2 separate regions of the Homo sapiens genome follow, and region 1 is linked to region 2. The links come from fine-mapping of genetic effects on plasma protein levels. Region 2 holds a variant in brackets. A gene starts in the other region. All regions are shown on their reverse strands.

Region 1 (9,302 bases), not on the chromosome of region 2:
ACGTCGAGGTGGGAGGATCACCTGAGGCTAGGAGTTCGAGACCAGCCTGGCCAACATGGCGAAACCCCATCTCTACTAAAAATACCAAAATTAACTGGGTGTGGTGGTTTGTGCCTGTAATCCCAGCTACTCGGGAGGCTGAGGCAGGAGAATTACTAGAACTTGGGAGGCAGAGGTTGCAGTGAGCCAAGATCATGCCACTGCACTCCAGGCTGGGCAACAAGAGCAAAACTCCATCTCAAAAAAAAAAAAAAAAAAAAAAAAAAGGCCAGGCACACTGGCTCACGCCTGTAATCCCAGCACTTTGGGAGGCCGAGGTGGGCGGATCACGAGCTCAGGAGATCAAGACCATCCTGGCTAACACGGTGAAACCCCGTCTCTACTAAAAATGCAAAAAATTAGCTGGGCATGGTGGCGGGCACCTGCAGTCCCAGCTACTTGGGAGGCTGAGGCAGAAGAATGGCATGAACCTGGGAGGCGGAGCTTGCAGTGAGCTGAGATTGTGCCCCTGCACTCCAGCCTGGGCAACAGAGCAAGACTCCGTCTCAAAAAAAAAAATTTTTCAAAAAAAAAAAAACTAAACTAAAAATTGAGCTACCATATGATCCAGCAACCCCACTGCTGGGTATATACCTGAAAGAAGGGAAATCAGTATATCAAAGAGATATCTGCATTCCCATGTTTGTTGCAGCACTGTTCACAATAGCCAAGATTTGGAAGCAATCTAAGTGTCCATCAACAGATGAATAAATAAAGAAAACATGGTACATATACACAACGGAGTACTATTCGGCCATAAAAAAGAATGAGATCCTGTAATATGCAACAACATGGATGGAACTGGAGGTCATTATGTTAAATGAAATAAGCCAGGCAGAAAAAGACAAACATTGCATGTTATCACTTATTTGTGACAGCTAAAAATTAAAACAATTGAACTCATAGAGGCAAAGTACTGGATGGTTACCAGAGGCTTGGAAGGGTAGTATAGGGCTTGTGGGGAGATGGGGATGGCTAATGCGTACAAAAAAATTGAATTAATGAGACCTATCTGGTAGCAGAACAGAGTGACTATAGTAAATAATAATTGTACATTTAAAAATAACTAAAAGAGTATAACTAGATTGTTTATAAGACAAAAGATAAATGCTTGAGGGGATGGATACCCCATTTACCATGATGTGATTATTACGCATTGCATGCCTGTATCAAAGTATCTCATGTACCCTATAAATATATATACCTACTACATACCCACAAAAATTAAAAATTAAAAATGTAACACAAAGAAAGAAACAGAAAAGAATCACATTTGAATAGTCATGTTAAAATAACAAGATAGCAGGTGCTTTTCCTTCTTTTTTTAGAGACAGGGTCTTGCTCTGTCACCCAGGCTACAGTGCAGTGGCATGCAGAGGCCAACTCACTGCAGCCTCAACCTCCTAGGCTCAAGTGATCCTCCCACATCAGCCTCCCTAACAGCTGGGACTACAGGTGCACACCACCATGCCCAGGTAATTTCTGTATTTTATTGTAGAGATGGGGTCTTGCCATGTTGCTCAGGCTGGTCTTGAACTCCTGGACTCAAGCAATCTACCCACCTTGGCCTCCCAAAGTGCTGGGATTACAGGTGTGAACCACTGTGCCTGGCCCTCTAAGTTTCTGCTAAAATGTACTTGTAACTTTTATACTGACTACACTTAAAAGTATTAAACTTGTAAAGAAAAGGCCCTGGAGGAGTTTGTTCTTTACAAGGTCAGTCAGAAGCTACAAGGGGCCAGGCTGGGGCCAAGGTGAGGGCAGGTACATGCAGGGGCAGATGCTGGGTATGGAGTAGGTGCCAGGTGCTAGCTGGGCATGAATGTGCACCCGCTCCCTGACCTCTGCTCCCTGACTCTCAGAAGGAACTAGCACTGCCTGGAGACAGGAAGAAGCAGAGTACGGAAGGCAGACTCTCTGGCCAGAGATCTCGCAGCCAGGAGCACAGTGAGAACAGAGCCTAAGCCTATCTGTCCAGAGCCCAGGCTCCCTTTCCCTACAACTGCAGCCTCCTTATTCTGGTCTGGCCCAGCAGAGTGAGGAGGGGCCACCCACCCAGCCATACCTGCTGGTGGCTGCTGGGGGTGCATGTTCAGAAGAGGAAAAGATGCGGTTCAGGTAGTCATTCAGCAGCTTCTCCTGCACAATGCCTGAGCCACAAGTCAGAAGGGAGAAAAGGGCCACATGATCAGTGCAGCTCCTGGCCCCTGCTGGCCCCAGAGACTTCTGGTCCTAGGCCAGCCACAGGTGCAGCAAGGCCTGAGGCCTTTGTCCCTTCCTTCTCCTCCCAACAAGAGGAGCCTCCTTCCTTCCCTGCCAGCTCTTACCTGTGACCCTGGATTTCTCAGCATCTGAGGTCAGCCTATAGCTCTTGCGGGAGAAAGACATGCCGGCCCCCTTGGATGCCATCCTTCATCTCTCATGGGCAGCCAGTGGTCCTGGGGGCTGAGCCAGACACAGAGCCTGTCTACTCAGGGCCAGCCAGGGGCCCCCACACCTGACCTCAGTCCTGCCATGGCAGGAAGGCTTGGGAGCAGGTGAGGCCAGGGGCATGCACACTAACACATAGGGCAGGGGAATGCAGGGGCTCCCAGCTTCCTACACAGGGAGGGTAGCCAGGGTCTAGGCCCATGTAACAGGGACCACTTCTTGTTCTCCAGTGTCCCTGTGCCCAGCACAGGGCTGGGCAGAGAGCAGGTACTAGATATATTTTTGCCGAACCATAACAAAATGTCTCAGCTCTGTGGAAATCAGACCAAAATGTCCAAAGTGAGGTGTCCTAGGGGCAGAGCCCCTGTATCCATCTCAGTTGTAAGCCATACTGAGTCCAGCTCACAACCAGAAGCGACAATCCTACACATTCCCCCAAGTGCAGACCACCACTGGTCTGGTCATCTCTAGCCATAAGTCCCACTTACTCCCCACAAGGCTGGAGCCTCTTTCCTCAGCCCTGGGTTCCTCCCTTCTTTTATCCATGGTCCTGATAGTTTCACCATTCCCACTCACACATGTGGCCTCCCACCTCATCCAAGCACCACCCTTGCCCAGCCCTCATGGCAAACTCCATTGGTCCTCCTAGTGCATCTATCCCTCACATCATGTTGCTGCTGCAGCTGCTCCAGAACCTGCACTGAGTCCCTGGTGCTGGCCTCACTGATGTGTAGCGGTGCTGTCCAACACAGCAGCCGTCATCCACATGAGGTTACTTAAATTTAAAGTTTTAAAAATTAACAATTCGATTTCTCAGTTGCCTTAGCCACATTTCAAGAGTTCAATGACCACATGTGGCTAATGGTTACTCTGTTGGACAGCACAAAGGTAGAACGTTCCCACCATCATATAAAGTTCTATTAGACAGCGCAGGTCTAGAGTTTCGCTCTGCAGCACTGCCTTAGCCAGCACTCCCTACTCTGCAGTTCAGTCTCTTATCTCACCCCAAACAGACCCTCTACTCCCGCCACAAACCCTTGTGGGTCTGCACCACGCCTGCTCCTCGGGAAGGTGATTTTCCCGACCTCGGGCCCTCGGTGGGCGTCCATGATCGGTGCCCCTTCACTACCAGAGTAGTTGAAGATCTGATTAAACTCAGTCATTCATTTGATGAGCAGACCTTCCAGACACCCGGAGTGGGCTCCGGGAGTCAGTTGCTGAGGACCCAGGTGAGAGGCGGACCTTGTCCCCGCCCGGGGACTCCCTGTCACGGCTATCCCGTCCAACCCCGCCGGGGTATCCGGACTCAGAACTGAACCTACTCCGTCTGGGAGCCCAAGGACGGCGAGGGCGGCGCATGGCTCCCCCAAGTCGCCCCCGCCTGGCCCCAAGCTCCACAGGACCTGCCAGACCAGCTTCCGCTCGGAGTTTCGCACCCAGATCCCTGCGCTGCAGGTGCCCTCGCACTGGACTAGCCCGGACCGCGAAGGGAATAGCCGGAACCCGCCAGGCTCAGAGCCCTGCCGCCCCTCACTCACCCGGAGCCTCGGCCGCAGCGACCCGGCTCACAACATCCGCCCAACCTCTTGGCTACGGCGTCCGTTCAGGGCCAAATCACGCGCACGCTTGCGCGCTGAGCCTCCAGCCGCGCACGCGCACTGGCCCGCGCCCAGCCTCCGCTAGGGGACCCCCTCCATGGCTTCCCACCGGGTTGTTCCAGGCCTCAGCTTCGCCGAAAGGCCTCACCACCTCCGACCTCCGCCTGCTCTGGGGATGCTCCCAGCCCTGCTGCGGCAGAACGCGACATGCTAACCGGAATCCCTAGGCCGCCTGTCTCCTACCCATACTTAGAGGCCCCGCTCAGACGGTCCTTAAAACGTCTGAAAGGCCGTTCCTGCCAGAGTCCCTGCTACCTGTTACCTCCACCCCTATTTAGTCCTAGTGGACAGCCTCGCTCACCTTCCCTGGGATGACACTTCTGGCGGCTGAGATGAGCGAGCCTCTCTGGGCTCTGCCGCCGGGTGTGGGCTGACCTGCCTACAGCTGGGGCCTGATAAGGCAGCAGCAAAAGGGTGGAGGGGAGGCAGTGTTGAAGCTGGGGCAAGTAATTTTCCCCAATTTACAGGGAAAAACCGAAATTCAGAAAAGTTTAATGTCACCCAGGGGCTGGAGCCCAGACCTCTGGCAGCTCTCACTTTCACAATGCCCTTGGGCTGACTAGGCTGCAGAGGGGTTTCACCCCAACCCCAGGGCACCTCAAGTGTCCCCACCAAACCTTCCTAACACCTGTCCACTAAGCTGTACTAGGCCCTTGCAACTGACCTATGGGACCTGAGGCCTGGCCCCTCATGGCTCCTGTCACCAGGTCTCAGGTCAGGGTCCAGCAGGCCCTGAGCTGACGTGTGGAGCCAGAGCCACCCAATCCCGTAGGGACAGGTTTCACAACTTCCCGGATGGGGCTGTGGTGGGTCACAGTGCAGCCTCCAGCCAGAAGGATGGGGTGGCTCCCACTCCTGCTGCTTCTGACTCAATGCTTAGGGGTCCCTGGTAAGTGCCCCCAACCCTGATCCCCATCTGCCTTCAGGAGGGGGTTGGCCCCATTCTCCTATTCTAGGATGAGAAAAAAGTCGGGGAGCCAGAGGCTCAGTGGGCATGGGGCAGTGACCTTGCCCTCTTGAGCACAGCTGGGAAGCCCTAGGAACACATAGACATTGCCCACTTAGGCCTCTATTAGCACGTCTGCTCTAGCACTGAAGCAGTGTCAGGACCACACAGATGCACGCACACAGCAGGCAGTGACCCCTCCTGAGCCTGATCTACCCCTCTAACCTAGCATATGCCTTTGTGCAGGTGAGAGCCCAGATTTGGAGTCTGAATGCCTAGCCAGGGCCCCTGGCTGGGTAATGTGATGGCTCTGAGCCTTAGCATTCTCATTTGAGAGATGAGGTGGGGCAAGCTTCATCACCCACTGCTCTCACAGAGCGTATGTGTTAGATCTGAGCCCGGTGCCTGGGCCACTAAACAGAGGCACCGGTGATAACTACCAAGTCTGGGCCTGCTTCCCAGGGGAAATTTTTTTCACAAGTATCTGTGCAGGGGGCTAGACTGGCCCTTGAAAGTGCATACAGGGTCCATCCCAGAAGCCTTGTAGCTTTGATCCCCTGAATGAACAAAGTGTGGACATGCCAATACACATTACTGACATGTATGCCCACCTGACCTGCACCCACTCATGCCTACTCTGCAGGGCAGCGCTCGCCATTGAATGACTTCCAAGTGCTCCGGGGCACAGAGCTACAGCACCTGCTACATGCGGTGGTGCCCGGGCCTTGGCAGGAGGATGTGGCAGATGCTGAAGAGTGTGCTGGTCGCTGTGGGCCCTTAATGGACTGCCGGTGAGTGGCCACTGGGCCTAGATAAGACTGGGGGCAGGGAAGCCTGGGCTGTGGCGTTACCCTGTGCCTTCTTCTCTCCAGGGCCTTCCACTACAACGTGAGCAGCCATGGTTGCCAACTGCTGCCATGGACTCAACACTCGCCCCACACGAGGCTGCGGCGTTCTGGGCGCTGTGACCTCTTCCAGAAGAAAGGCAAGTGGGGGTGGAGAGGGGCAGGGTGGGAGACAGGGGACCTCAGCCCAAGTTGATCTTCTGTCTCTTGCTCCCAGACTACGTACGGACCTGCATCATGAACAATGGGGTTGGGTACCGGGGCACCATGGCCACGACCGTGGGTGGCCTGCCCTGCCAGGCTTGGAGCCACAAGTTCCCAAATGATCACAAGTGAGACAAACACCTTCCCTCCGTCCCGGCCTGGGGCCTTCCCCCAGCACACACTATAGTGATGCTCTGGGCCCTCAGGTACACGCCCACTCTCCGGAATGGCCTGGAAGAGAACTTCTGCCGTAACCCTGATGGCGACCCCGGAGGTCCTTGGTGCTACACAACAGACCCTGCTGTGCGCTTCCAGAGCTGCGGCATCAAATCCTGCCGGGAGGGTAAGCGGCGCCGGGTCAAGCTGGGAGAGTGGAGGGACAAGCCCACGTCCATCCACGAACCCACTGGCTCTTTGTCTCCAGCCGCGTGTGTCTGGTGCAATGGCGAGGAATACCGCGGCGCGGTAGACCGCACGGAGTCAGGGCGCGAGTGCCAGCGCTGGGATCTTCAGCACCCGCACCAGCACCCCTTCGAGCCGGGCAAGTACGCGTAGGCGGTATCGGCGTCCTGGGGGCCGGGCTAGGGAAGGTCCAGGACTCCAGGGGCAGGGCTCCGTGTAGGGCAATTGGGCGGGGCCAGATAAGCCAGAGTCCCAGGGTCTTGTTCACGCCCCATTACCGCCCCCAGGTTCCTCGACCAAGGTCTGGACGACAACTATTGCCGGAATCCTGACGGCTCCGAGCGGCCATGGTGCTACACTACGGATCCGCAGATCGAGCGAGAGTTCTGTGACCTCCCCCGCTGCGGTAGGCGGCGGGGACCAGGCCTGGGAGGGTACCTGGGAACCTTGGGGAGGGGCGTGGCTTGGCCGGGGAGGTAAGAGGGGCTGGGCGTGACCTGAGAGCATACCCCGTGGAGTACCGTACACCTGGGAAAGGCGGGTTTGGTCCCAGCCCCAGAGGGATCTCAGCTCTCGCTCGGGGCCCGACCTATCTCGGTCCATCTAAGGGTCCGAGGCACAGCCCCGCCAAGAGGCCACAACTGTCAGCTGCTTCCGCGGGAAGGGTGAGGGCTACCGGGGCACAGCCAATACCACCACTGCGGGCGTACCTTGCCAGCGTTGGGACGCGCAAATCCCGCATCAGCACCGATTTACGCCAGAAAAATACGCGTGCAAGTGAGGTGGGGGGGGGGGGCGGGCGTTGGGACGTGCTGCTGCGGGTGAGACGGGAGGAAGGTAGTCACGGGCTCAAGGCTGGAGGCTGGCGGGCTAGGGCTGAGTGGAGCGCCTGCTTAGAGACCTTCGGGAGAACTTCTGCCGGAACCCCGACGGCTCAGAGGCGCCCTGGTGCTTCACACTGCGGCCCGGCATGCGCGCGGCCTTTTGCTACCAGATCCGGCGTTGTACAGACGACGTGCGGCCCCAGGGTGAGGCCCAAGCTTGGGGGCTACAGAGCCGGGCTGGAAGCCTGGAACCGGAGGGCCGGGGCGAGGTCTCGGCCTGATGGCTGCCCGCACCCGCCACAGACTGCTACCACGGCGCAGGGGAGCAGTACCGCGGCACGGTCAGCAAGACCCGCAAGGGTGTCCAGTGCCAGCGCTGGTCCGCTGAGACGCCGCACAAGCCGCAGTGAGTCCCTGGTGCTCCCGGCCCCGCCAGGGCCCTAACCCTGGGGCGGCATGCTTTGGTGTCTGGGACCAGAGCCTGGAAATGGTTGAGACTACCCTGCCACGATTTTGCTCCCGCTTCCGCCTAGGTTCACGTTTACCTCCGAACCGCATGCACAACTGGAGGAGAACTTCTGCCGGAACCCAGATGGGGATAGCCATGGGCCCTGGTGCTACACGATGGACCCAAGGACCCCATTCGACTACTGTGCCCTGCGACGCTGCGGTGAGCACTAGTGACGCTTCCCCCATGACCCTGCCTCAGCCCCCACCCAAAGGCTGGCTCCCTTAACCCCAGTGAACTTTGTCTTTCAGCTGATGACCAGCCGCCATCAATCCTGGACCCCCCAGGTTAGGAGTTGGGCCAGTTATGGGTCAGGCCCTTTAGCCCACGACATCCACACAGTCTGGGTTTCATCCAGCCCACCCCATCCTACAGACCAGGTGCAGTTTGAGAAGTGTGGCAAGAGGGTGGATCGGCTGGATCAGCGGCGTTCCAAGCTGCGCGTGGTTGGGGGCCATCCGGGCAACTCACCCTGGACAGTCAGCTTGCGGAATCGGTGAGGCACAACTGCCTGTCTCCCACAGAGAGGAGCTGAGGTTGTGTCCTCTGTGGTTATCCCACTGGGGGCTGGGAATCTATCCCTGCCCCCAGAGGTCCTAGCCAGAAGATGGCAGGTCTAGCATCTGTCCCAGGAGTCTGTTACCTGTCCTAATTCCCCACTCCTCTAGGCAGGGCCAGCATTTCTGCGGGGGGTCTCTAGTGAAGGAGCAGTGGATACTGACTGCCCGGCAGTGCTTCTCCTCCTGGTGAGCCTCCCTTGTGTTTGGGGACCCAGTCTCATCCCACCTTCCCCCTTCCCCAGGCAAGCTAACAAGTGAGCCTTGGGGCAATGGACTGAGAGTCACAAATGACCTAGCAGAGCTTCTCTCCCAGCCATATGCCTCTCACGGGCTATGAGGTATGGTTGGGCACCCTGTTCCAGAACCCACAGCATGGAGAGCCAAGCCTACAGCGGGTCCCAGTAGCCAAGATGGTGTGTGGGCCCTCAGGCTCCCAGCTTGTCCTGCTCAAGCTGGAGAGGTATGTGGACAACCTGGGAGGGTGTGAGGTGGGGCTGGGCCTTGTGGCCTCAGACCCTGAGTGCCCCCATTCTTGCTAAAGATCTGTGACCCTGAACCAGCGTGTGGCCCTGATCTGCCTGCCCCCTGAATGGTATGTGGTGCCTCCAGGGACCAAGTGTGAGATTGCAGGCTGGGGTGAGACCAAAGGTAAGAGCACAGTGCACAGGACTGCTGGTGGCCAGGAGGCCCAGCCCTGGATCTTCCTGCAGGACCCTCTCCCTCTCCCCATTCCCCTCACTGCAGGTACGGGTAATGACACAGTCCTAAATGTGGCCTTGCTGAATGTCATCTCCAACCAGGAGTGTAACATCAAGCACCGAGGACGTGTGCGGGAGAGTGAGATGTGCACTGAGGGACTGTTGGCCCCTGTGGGGGCCTGTGAGGT
Region 2 (9,302 bases):
TAGTGAATCTAGTTAGAAATGAGTAGCAGAAAAAATAGGAAAGACCCGTCTCTCAATATTATGGTTGCTTCCCAAAACAAAACCAGTTGATACAGCATGAAGGCAATTTAAAATGATAGATATGGACATGCTGCCTTACATTTCATATCACCTCTTTACTAAATGAGAATTTTTTGGATGCATAGGGAAAGTTTGCATAATATTGAAAAGTTTGACTTTCTGGAATCTATGTGAGCTCAGGAATATATTTGGGGATCTTAGCAGAGGCCAGTGGTAGCCTATTAAATCTAAAACAATTGGCTTTGTTTTTAAAACCAGCTGCTATTTTGTAGTTTCATTTAAAGAAAAAGTACCTTCTATTCATTTGCAGAAGTTGCTTTATTGGATTCTATGGTCATTGTATATCATAACTATATCTTTTTTGTTACCTGAAATAAACATGTGGCAATTTTCCTGATAGAGATGATGAATTATCTTTATTGTTTGCTTCATATTCCACCCTCACCACCGGGCAAGCGGAGGCTGAGCATGACTTCTGCCATATTGCAGCAACTTATCAGTTGCAATCTGTCACCTAAAACTATTTGATCATATGGTAGTCATGAAAAATATGGAGAATGTAAAGATTTTATGCATTCAGTCAAAAAAAGGCAGATCTAAAATCAGTTGGTTTATTTCCTGCAGTCTTTCAAGTTGACCAAAGCACTCACTGATTTGCTCTATTTTCTTACGTTTTTAGTATTTCTGTATATATGCACTAAAAAGCCCCACTCAGAAAAAAAAAATCAGTGCAATTCTGAGAAAAAGCTTATCCTAAACATCTAAAGATAGCATTTCTAATTATTGTCTACATTGTGTTTAAACTGTGCAAACTTGAGCATTATTCTCACTTTACCAGCTGTGTCTAGGTAGAGTCATTACATCAAACGCTTCTAATTTTACAAAAAGAAATCAAAACAAGCGTGTGTTTCAGTCCCCGTGACAAATGCAAACCCTGTGAGTCAAATAGGCAAACTGATTAGCAAGCTGGCTGGGAAGTCAAAACAGCAAATATAAGGAGATTAACAAAATAGATCTGTAAGATGAGAGGAGTAAAAATAGACTCCAGGGGCCAAGTGGGGTCCGGTGGGTGGCTTTGGTGGCACACATATGGTTCTGTGCCAGGAACCAGATGTCTGCCTTTATGGCCCACAATCTTCCCTTCATTCTAGGTTCCCTCCCCACAAGAGATGGGATCGCAGAGTTCATGTCATTCAGTCTCTCAATGGATGCAGAAATCCTTCTCGGGAACCTCAGAGGTAGCAACTGTCCTTCATTTGAATCCTGGTTGCATGATGCTCACTGCCTTACAAGGCAGCTCCATCTATTTATTAGTAGGTAGCTGTTTTTTGGATCTTAGCCATTGTTATTAATTAGATACTTACCAGGTCCTTATTTGTTGTGCATGCTATGCTGTGCACCTCTCGTGAATAACACTTGATTTAATCTTCAAAACAATCTGGTATGATGATCTTATTTTACCTATGCTCAGAGAGGTTAAGTGACTTGTTCGGGTCACACAGTTTCTGAGTGTGGCAGAGCTGGGGTTCAAATGGGCCTTTCTACCTGAGTCTGACCTGTTAACCATCATGCTATATGCATATCTTTGCCCTTACAATGAACTGTAAATTGTCTGCCTATTATTTCCTCTTTTTTTTTTTTTCTTGTTTGCTTTTTGCTTTTTTGTTTTGGGGTTTTTTGTTTTGTTTCGTTTTGGTTTTTTGGCTCTGGAGGCCCATGGGATAGTTTATCCATCCCATTCCCAAAACAGAAATAGAGTGAGTCGGCCAGGGTGCCTCTTCAGCCCCCATCTACGGGGTCAAGGGTTGTGAAGAGCAAAACTAAGAACACAATGCAATTGACAAGAAGTGTCAGCCTCCTTCTGAAAAAAAAGGTCCACACCTCCCTTGATGGTCCTGAATTCACCATAACCGAGGCAGCAGAGTAGACGATGGGTGTTTGGCACCCATCCTCTCCATCCTGTGTCCCCGTGTAATAGCTGCCTTGTTGCAACTTGTAATTAGGGGGATATTTGAGATCAGGATCAGGAGATTTAGAGACACTGTTTGCTCATCCCCTTTCAGTGTCGATGAGTACAGTTCAAGTTAGTATTCAAACCAGTGAGAACCAACTGGTGGAGCAAAATCACCAGGCAATAGCCTTTCTCTTCAGTTGTCACTTGGGCTCAAGGAAAGATTTTAAAATAAGTTAGTCCTAGTTAGAGGTAAAAATAACCCCTGGAGACAGGTTTCTGGCTGCGGTTCAGTTGGACGCACTGCCTAGCTAGTCTGGGAGAAATGGAAGCTGCCTCCCAGTAACCAGGGTGGAAAAGTCACAGCTAGGAAGTGAGGCTACCCTGGGAGGCTAAAAAGTTATTGCAAGTACGTTTATTCCATGAATGAAGGTGTATACACAAGACTGTTCTAGCCTGGGTATAGATTATAAGTTTCAAAAGAAAGCTGAACTCCCAACAAGCCTTCATCAAAATCAACTGCCTTTCCATCCCACTGCCTCCGTTTGCCTCTGGTTTTGGTCCTGCCAAATGCTAACAACGTCACATTCCAACCCTACTCTTCTGTGCCTAGGCAAGATGCAGTCACCTGGCTTCCCTGGCACTGTCTCTGATATCTGGGAAATGGACCTAAGGCTGTACTCGGAGGCAGATGTGACAAGCTACCAGCCCAGGTGAGATGGAAGGCCTCTTCCCCTCTCAGGCCAGAGGGTCCAGTGCCAGAATCATCCCGACGCTTGTCGCAAATTCACTTTCTCTTCTCCCTTTGGATTCCACAGCTCTGGGATGTAGCCCAGGAAGCTGTATTTTTTTTTTTTAACTTCCCTGAGTGATTCTGGTGATCTTCCTCTTGGAGCCACACTGAAGGGCAAGACAAGCAGTGGCTGAACGTTGTTGCCAGCAGGGTTAGGGAGGTGGGGGCAGAGGATAAGGAGAAGTCCTGTAGGGATTTGGGAAGCATGTTTGCCACTCCCAAAAAAAAGAAAAAAAAGGAAAACGAAAACAAAACAAAAAAAAGCTCAGCTTGGGAGAGAAGCCTAAAACAAACAAACAAAAAAGTAACCAAGACCTCGACGCAGTACTGAATTGCTGAATTTTTAATCTGTAACACAAAGGTTGCCAAACATTCCCCCAAAGGAGCAGCTCTCAGTGGGGTGGCGGTGGATGCGAAACAGCTGAAGACGCGGGGCAGTTGGCCTGGCTTCCGTTGCACGGGCTGGCTTCCCGCGGGAGCGGTGGTGGGTGGGGAGGGGTGGGGGGACTCGAGGCAACCCCCCAGAGCGGCCTCTGAGCGCCTAGGAGGAACCTGAAGGCGGGAAGGGGGAAGATCGTCAGGTCAAAGGCGGGAGTCTCAGGGCTTATGGGGTGGGGAAGGAGGGTCTGGGTGGAAAGGTACCTCAGGGAGCCTAGGAGGCTGTCAGCGTGAGCGGGGTGTTTCGGTACAAATGGAGGCCTTCAGACCTACTGAGTGGGGGGCTCCGAGGGTTGGGGCGGTCCTCAGGATGGAAGGATGGTGGGTCTCGGTATAGGGAGACCTCTGGGTGGAGAGGGCTGCGGGGAGACTTCAGCAAAGGCGAAGGTGAGACCTCAGAGTGGAGGGTGTCTGTTGGAGCAGAGGAGAAGCTCAAAGGCAGAGGGGGGCCTCGGGGGTCCCTGGCCGCCGCCGGGTGGGGGCCGCGCTCAGGCGGCCTTGCACTCGCTCTCGCGCCGCC[G/C]CTTCTTGCGCTCTGAGTGCTCCCGCGCCTGGCGCTCCCAGAGCCCGGGCCCGCACACGCCCACCACGCAGCAGGCCAGCCGCCGGCCCGCGTTCCCGTTCTCCACGCTGGCCTGGTTGCCGCCGCGGCCCAGGTCGTCCTCGCCAGCGTGGACGACCACGGCCCGGCCCACGATGGAGTGCGGGCCCGCGAGCGAGGCGGCCAGGCCGGCGCGGTACCTCCAGAGGCTGCCGTCGCGGACCGCGAAGTTGCCGAAGTCGCCCGGGTGCTGCGGGTGCGGCACGGCCAGCGGGTTGTAGTGGGGCCCGGTGGACTCGCAGCCCTGGCTCAGGTCCCCGAACTGGTGCACGTGGATGGCGCGGCTGGAGCTGTTCGGCTCGGTCGGGAAGCCCTCCAGGGCGAAGAAGGCGTCGAGCTTGGCGCGGGGCGCAAGCTGCCGGAAGAGGACGACGCCGGTCACCCGGGGCTGCGCGGCGTCCAGCGTGGCCGACGGCTGCACCTGGCAGGCGGCGTGGAGCGCGCCGTCGTCGTCCCGCCGCTGCATGACCTCCTGCCAGATCTCCGTGACCTTGGCGTACATGTCTCGGATCCACTCCGCCGAGTCAGAGTTGGGCTCCGCCGAGTCCTCGCCCGTCCAGGCGTCCGAGGCACCGGCTGCCAGGAGCAGGCAGGAACACAGTAGCGCCAGCATGGCTGGAGTCGGGCACCTGCGGGACGCCCCCGCGGAGGTGGGGGCAGAGTGAGGCTTAGTCACGTGAAACATAGAATCTCAGGGACCCCATTATCGCAGAACCAACCCCCCAGTCCCCAGTGGGCTTCCTGGCCCAGTGGGCATGACTTCATGTGGCAAACGTTTGTCTAGGGCCTGCTGTGTGCCGGGCACTGTGTTAGGTGCTGTGGCTGTAAAGATGGGTGAGACCCAATCTGAAGAAACCCACAGGGATCTGAGTCACAAATGATCATCGTCCTCTCCAGTCCCATCTCTATAGCGTGGAGGGGGTCTCAGGGAGCGTGAGGGGTGTCTCATGGCCCTTCCAGACCACCTCCCTCATCTCCCCACCTGGTCTCCTGTTACCCTCTTCCTCCATCCTCCCCCACAGACATCCCTAAGGCTTCTGTCCCTGCCTTCTGGGGCTTTGCATGTGCTACGCCTTCTCCCTGAAGTGCCTTCTCCCTGTTCTCTGCTACACTCAGTAGACTTGGAGCTTCTTGAAGACAGAAACTCAGTTTTATTCATCGGTATCCCCAGCACCTGGGCCCACACCTGGCAAAAGGAAACATATAATATGGATTTTGCATAAGGAGTTCAGTGAGGGACAGACTTGGCATCCAATCATTCCAGCACAATCCTGTGATTGAAGATGGGGCCTGTGCTGGAGAAGGACAGAGGAGGCAGTACCCATCTCCCTAGGAGCCTCAGGGAAGGCTTCTCAGAGGTGGTGACTTTTGAACTGGGTTCCACAAGATGGGTAGGAGTTTTCCAGCCAAGTTGGGTAGGAAGGCCATCTCAGCAGGCAGTGCAGTGGAAGTTTTTAAGAAGAAAAGTGGGTGATGAGATAGTCTTTAGTTCCTTAAGTCCTACTGGTAAAAGGATATGGGTTGGACTTTGGGATGAAGAGGAAAGGGGAGGAAGAATGGGAGTAGCCTAGGGAGAGACAGAGAAGCAGAAATAGAGACAGTGAGATGAGTTAGGGGGCGTTGTAGTAACCCAAGCAGGAAATGAAGGCTTTTACCAAAGTGCAGGTGGTGCACACAGAGGAGGCATGGGTTTAAGAGACACACCGGGCAGCACTGGCAGGATGGAAGATGAAGGCACAGTGCAGATGACCAGGGTTCCCAGCAGGAGAGACTGAGTGGAGGGAGGGTGGGACCTGTTCTGGAAAAGCAGGGAGAGAGGATTAGTTCAGCTGGAGTCTCCTGAGGGTGAGACGCTGGCGGGTGCCCAGGTGGGAAGACAGGTGGGCAGACAGTCGGAAACTTGGGTCTGGCACTTAGAAGAGGAGATGAAGCTGGCAGGGGTTCTCAGTGTTGACTGCACATCAGATGTCTGGTTTTTAAAAATCAGATGCCCAGGCCCCACCCCAAGAGATTTTGATTCTGTGAGAAAGAAAGGAGAGAAGAAAGACAGAGAGAGAGGAAGGAAGGGAAAGAAAGAGGAAAGAAAGAAAAGAAAAGAAAGAAGACACCTCTATCAAAGATTCTGGGGCCCAGCTAGGAATTATAAAGTCAGGTACAGATTTGAATCCCAATTCCAACCTATACTAACTGTGACTTCACGGGGTTACTGATGCTTAGCTTCAAGTTCCTTACCTGTAGAATAAGGCCAGCCATGCCACCGAGGTATTTCCAGAGGGATTGATGCTGCCTCCAAAGAATTGCTTTGAAGGTCAACTGCATTTCCAGCACCAAACTAGGTGCCATTTAAAAAACTCCAAGATTGGGTAGATATGCTTTATATAACCATTTCAGAAAGGCAATTTAGTGTGGTTATTAAAGGGATGGATTCCAGAACTCACCTCATGAATCTAAAGCCTGACTCTGCCACTTAGTCTAAGGGTTAGCTGTTACTATTTTTATTGCTGAGTAGCAGAGTAATTGCTGGACTGCAGACTGTACACTGTCTCATCCCCTGTGAACCTCAGTTTTCTCATCTGTAAATAGGGATACTAATACAGACTTACCTTAGAGGCTTGCTGCGAGGCTTAAAAGAGATGATTAGAATTGCTAAAACTTATCGAACACAGGCGCCAGACACTATTATAAGTACTGTGCGTGGGTTAATTCCCTGCATCCTCACAAGAACATTATTCAGTGTTATCCCCATTCTAAAGTGTAGGAAACTGAGGCACAGAGAGGCGTGTGTCCCGCCCAAGGTGACATGTTCACTAAGGAGCTGAAGGCAGGATTTGAAAGTGTGTGTCTGCTCCAAGCCCAAGGTTTAGGCACCACACTGCACATCTCTCATCTAGGGCACTTAGCACAGAGCCCAGTACATAGAAAGTTCCCAGTAAATGGCAGCTCTTAGCTATCAGAGAGAGCTGCTGGTAGAGATTTTAAGGACCATTAGCTAAGAGATGCTATGGACACTGTGAGAGGAGGTCCCCTTGAAAGGCTCCAAGAAGGAGGATCCAGAAAGAGGGAGAAGCAGAGAAAGTGATGTTGAAGGACTCACCTAAATGACATGGCCCAATGTGGTACTACTACCCCAAAGCCCCAGGGAGTAGGCAGGAAAGTGGGGTAACTCTCCTGCCAGACCTGGACATGAAGTTCCCCATCATCAAAGACACCTTCCTCCTAAGACAGCCCTGCCACTCAGAAGGGCTCTGCTGCTTAGAAAGTTCTCCCTAAAAGCACAGAGCAAAACCAGATTGTTTTGGGTGTGTCAGTGAGCTTTCTTTTTCAAGAATCCTTGGGAAATAAACATTTTAAGGAGATGTTTTTCTCTGAAACCAAAAGAAGAGCCAGGCATGGTGGCTTATGCCTGTAATCCCACCCCTTTGGGAGGATGAGACAGGAGAATCATTTGAGTACAAGAGTATGAGACCAACCTGGTAGAGACCCCCATCTCTAGCAAAAAAAAAAAAAAAAAATAGCTGGGTGTGGTGGCATGTGCCTGTAGTCCCAGTTACTCAGGAGGTTGAGGTAGGAGGATCGCTTGAGCCCGGGAGGTAGAGGCTGTAGTGAGCCGTGATAGTGATCGTGCCACTACATTCCAGCCTGGGTGCTGGGTGACAGAATGAGACCATGTCTCAAAAAAAAAAAAAAAAAAAAAAAAAAGAGAAGAAGGAGGAGGAGGAGGAAAAGGGGGAAAGAAAATTCTCCCTCAAACCCAGGTAAACTCTGACTTCTTGTTTCTTAAGCCTTTGACACCTCTTCCCCTCGGGACCAACTTGATTCTTCTCCCACAGCCTCTTGCTCAGTTTGAGCTGTGAATGACCAAGTGCCTTTTTAAGGGCCTCCTTTGTACGTGGATCTGGAAGGGAGGACGGTGTTATCAGAGAAAGAGGACAGTGTTATCAGAGAAAGAGGACAGGGGCCCTTATCCTGAACCAAATAGAGGCACCAAGCCTTTATCTCCTTCCTGGGTCTGTATCTGGGAAGAACCTGCCCCTCTTGAGCCTTGGGTGTGTTTCATCCCTCAGCTGTCTCCTAGAAGGAGCTCTTGCTGGGAGCCTGAGCTGGCCAGGGCCTCTCTGCTTTCCTAAGGAGGTGGCTTTTTAGAGTACCTGCTGTCCCATAAGTGGCTCCCGACACCAAAGCCATGCAACATCTAGAAAGGCCCCCTTTCTCGTCACTCCAGATTCCTTTTCCTAACACTAAAATCCTCTTGGACTGGTCTTTGCAGATCCACAGGAGGAACGGTTTCTTCCTCCCCTCCTTGCCTTCCTCCCCGCTCACTCCACCTCCCCACTAACCCCTCAGAGCAGCCAGGGAAAGTACATTTCCTTCCCAAGAAGATGATCCAATTTGTTCCCAAGAAGAGGCCCGTTGCCCCAACCCAGCTTCAGACTCAATAAGCACACTCCGAGAAGAACAAAATGAACCTCAACTTAGCACCCACCTTTCCAGCTCCTCCAAGAGAGCTTTCTCTCCTGAAAAGAGAGCTGCACCCAGCCAGCCCAGGAACGCAGGCTGTCCCTGGAGCCTGGGCTGTTAGCGCGAGTGCAGGAGGCCAGCCCAGAGGAGTGGTCAGCGTGAGGGAGCCAGTCATTGGGCCAGTTCAGGGAGGAAAAGCAGGCCAGACCTCCCCGGGTTGTAGAATTGCTTCGCCTCCACCTCCTCCCGCTCTGTCCCCACCTCCTCTGCCCCTCCCATTTTTGGGTTTTCGGGCCAAGGATTCCATTCCGCGACTTCACCGGCTTGTAGCCAGTGACCTTCAGCACACAGCAGGGGAATAAAAATGAGAAAGAAAATCGCCTGTTTGGAGAGGTGTACAATGACCTCTTTATTGAGAGGCCCTTTGCTTTTCTGTAAGTCAATAACTTATTGACTTATTTTTGCTGCATGGAAATGGGCACCTTGCAAATGTGCGTGGCATTTGCTCCAGAGCTGTGCTGTCATACCTATGAGAGCAGAGCAGCGGGTGGGTCGTGATGACACACTCAGGCTGCAGAGTCCCAGCCTTGTCACTTCCTATCTGTGTACGCCTGAAGCAGCTGCACCACTCCCTGCACCTCCTTTTCATCATCTGTAAAATGGGGGTGTGAGGCTGTCCACCCCGCACGCCCACCGTGAAGATCCAATGAGATCATTACTCGCCCAGTGACAACACAGTGGCTGGCACTAGCCGCACTCATAAGTAATCATCATTGTCATTGTCGTTACCGTTATTATTAAAGAGATGAAGGAGTCTTTTTAAAAAATGTGTTGTCTGGGAGAACTAGGAGTGTTTCCCTCCCGACGTCTGTCCTTTTTTTGCTGCCATGAACTTTTCTCAATCATAGCAGCCCTTTCCAAAAATAGAAGCTCTTCTTTCCCAGAAAAGCCCATGTGGGAAAAACCAGGCAGCCTGCTTGCTGGCCTGCCCGTCCTCCTGCATT

Which allele goes with the higher level. Positions count from the first base shown, and alleles are read on the strand shown. Strength reflects both the effect of a copy and how common the allele is.
As copies of C replace G in region 2, the plasma level of the protein whose gene starts at base 4,140 in region 1 goes down (weak association).

The links. PIP is the chance, under the fine-mapping model, that this variant and not a neighbour inherited with it causes the effect. The UK Biobank Pharma Proteomics Project read protein levels with antibody pairs (Olink). The fine-mapping took linkage between variants from a reference panel, not from the people measured, so its PIPs are less certain.
Region 1: it holds the start of MST1, and the variant in region 2 is fine-mapped to the plasma level of the MST1 protein (UK Biobank, PIP above 0.99).

The regions. Positions count from the first base shown.
Region 1 is chr3:49,684,312-49,693,613 of GRCh38, reverse strand. MST1 (macrophage stimulating 1) reads left to right here and starts at 4,140. Exons shown (of 18, transcript NM_020998.4): 1 at 4,140-5,016; 2 at 5,717-5,864; 3 at 5,946-6,058; 4 at 6,136-6,250; 5 at 6,329-6,465; 6 at 6,547-6,667; 7 at 6,812-6,930; 8 at 7,133-7,301; 9 at 7,422-7,552; 10 at 7,652-7,754; 11 at 7,882-8,018; 12 at 8,108-8,143; 13 at 8,232-8,352; 14 at 8,525-8,602; 3 more. The coding sequence starts at 4,923. RNF123 (ring finger protein 123) reads right to left here and starts at 4,057. Exons shown (of 39, transcript NM_022064.5): 1 at 4,008-4,057; 2 at 2,367-2,484; 3 at 2,105-2,189. The coding sequence starts at 2,448. RefSeq lists enhancers at 4,227-4,786, 6,303-7,016, 7,017-7,730 and a silencer at 6,629-6,748.
Region 2 is chr4:24,794,673-24,803,974 of GRCh38, reverse strand. SOD3 (superoxide dismutase 3) reads right to left here and starts at 8,402. Exons shown (of 2, transcript NM_003102.4): 1 at 8,324-8,402; 2 at 3,133-4,469. The coding sequence starts at 4,453. The coding sequence ends at 3,731. It overlaps CCDC149 (coiled-coil domain containing 149), which reads left to right. Exons shown (of 13, transcript NM_001395273.1): 13 at 1-461. RefSeq lists an enhancer at 3,750-4,250. The variant G/C (reference allele first, on the strand shown) is at 3,763.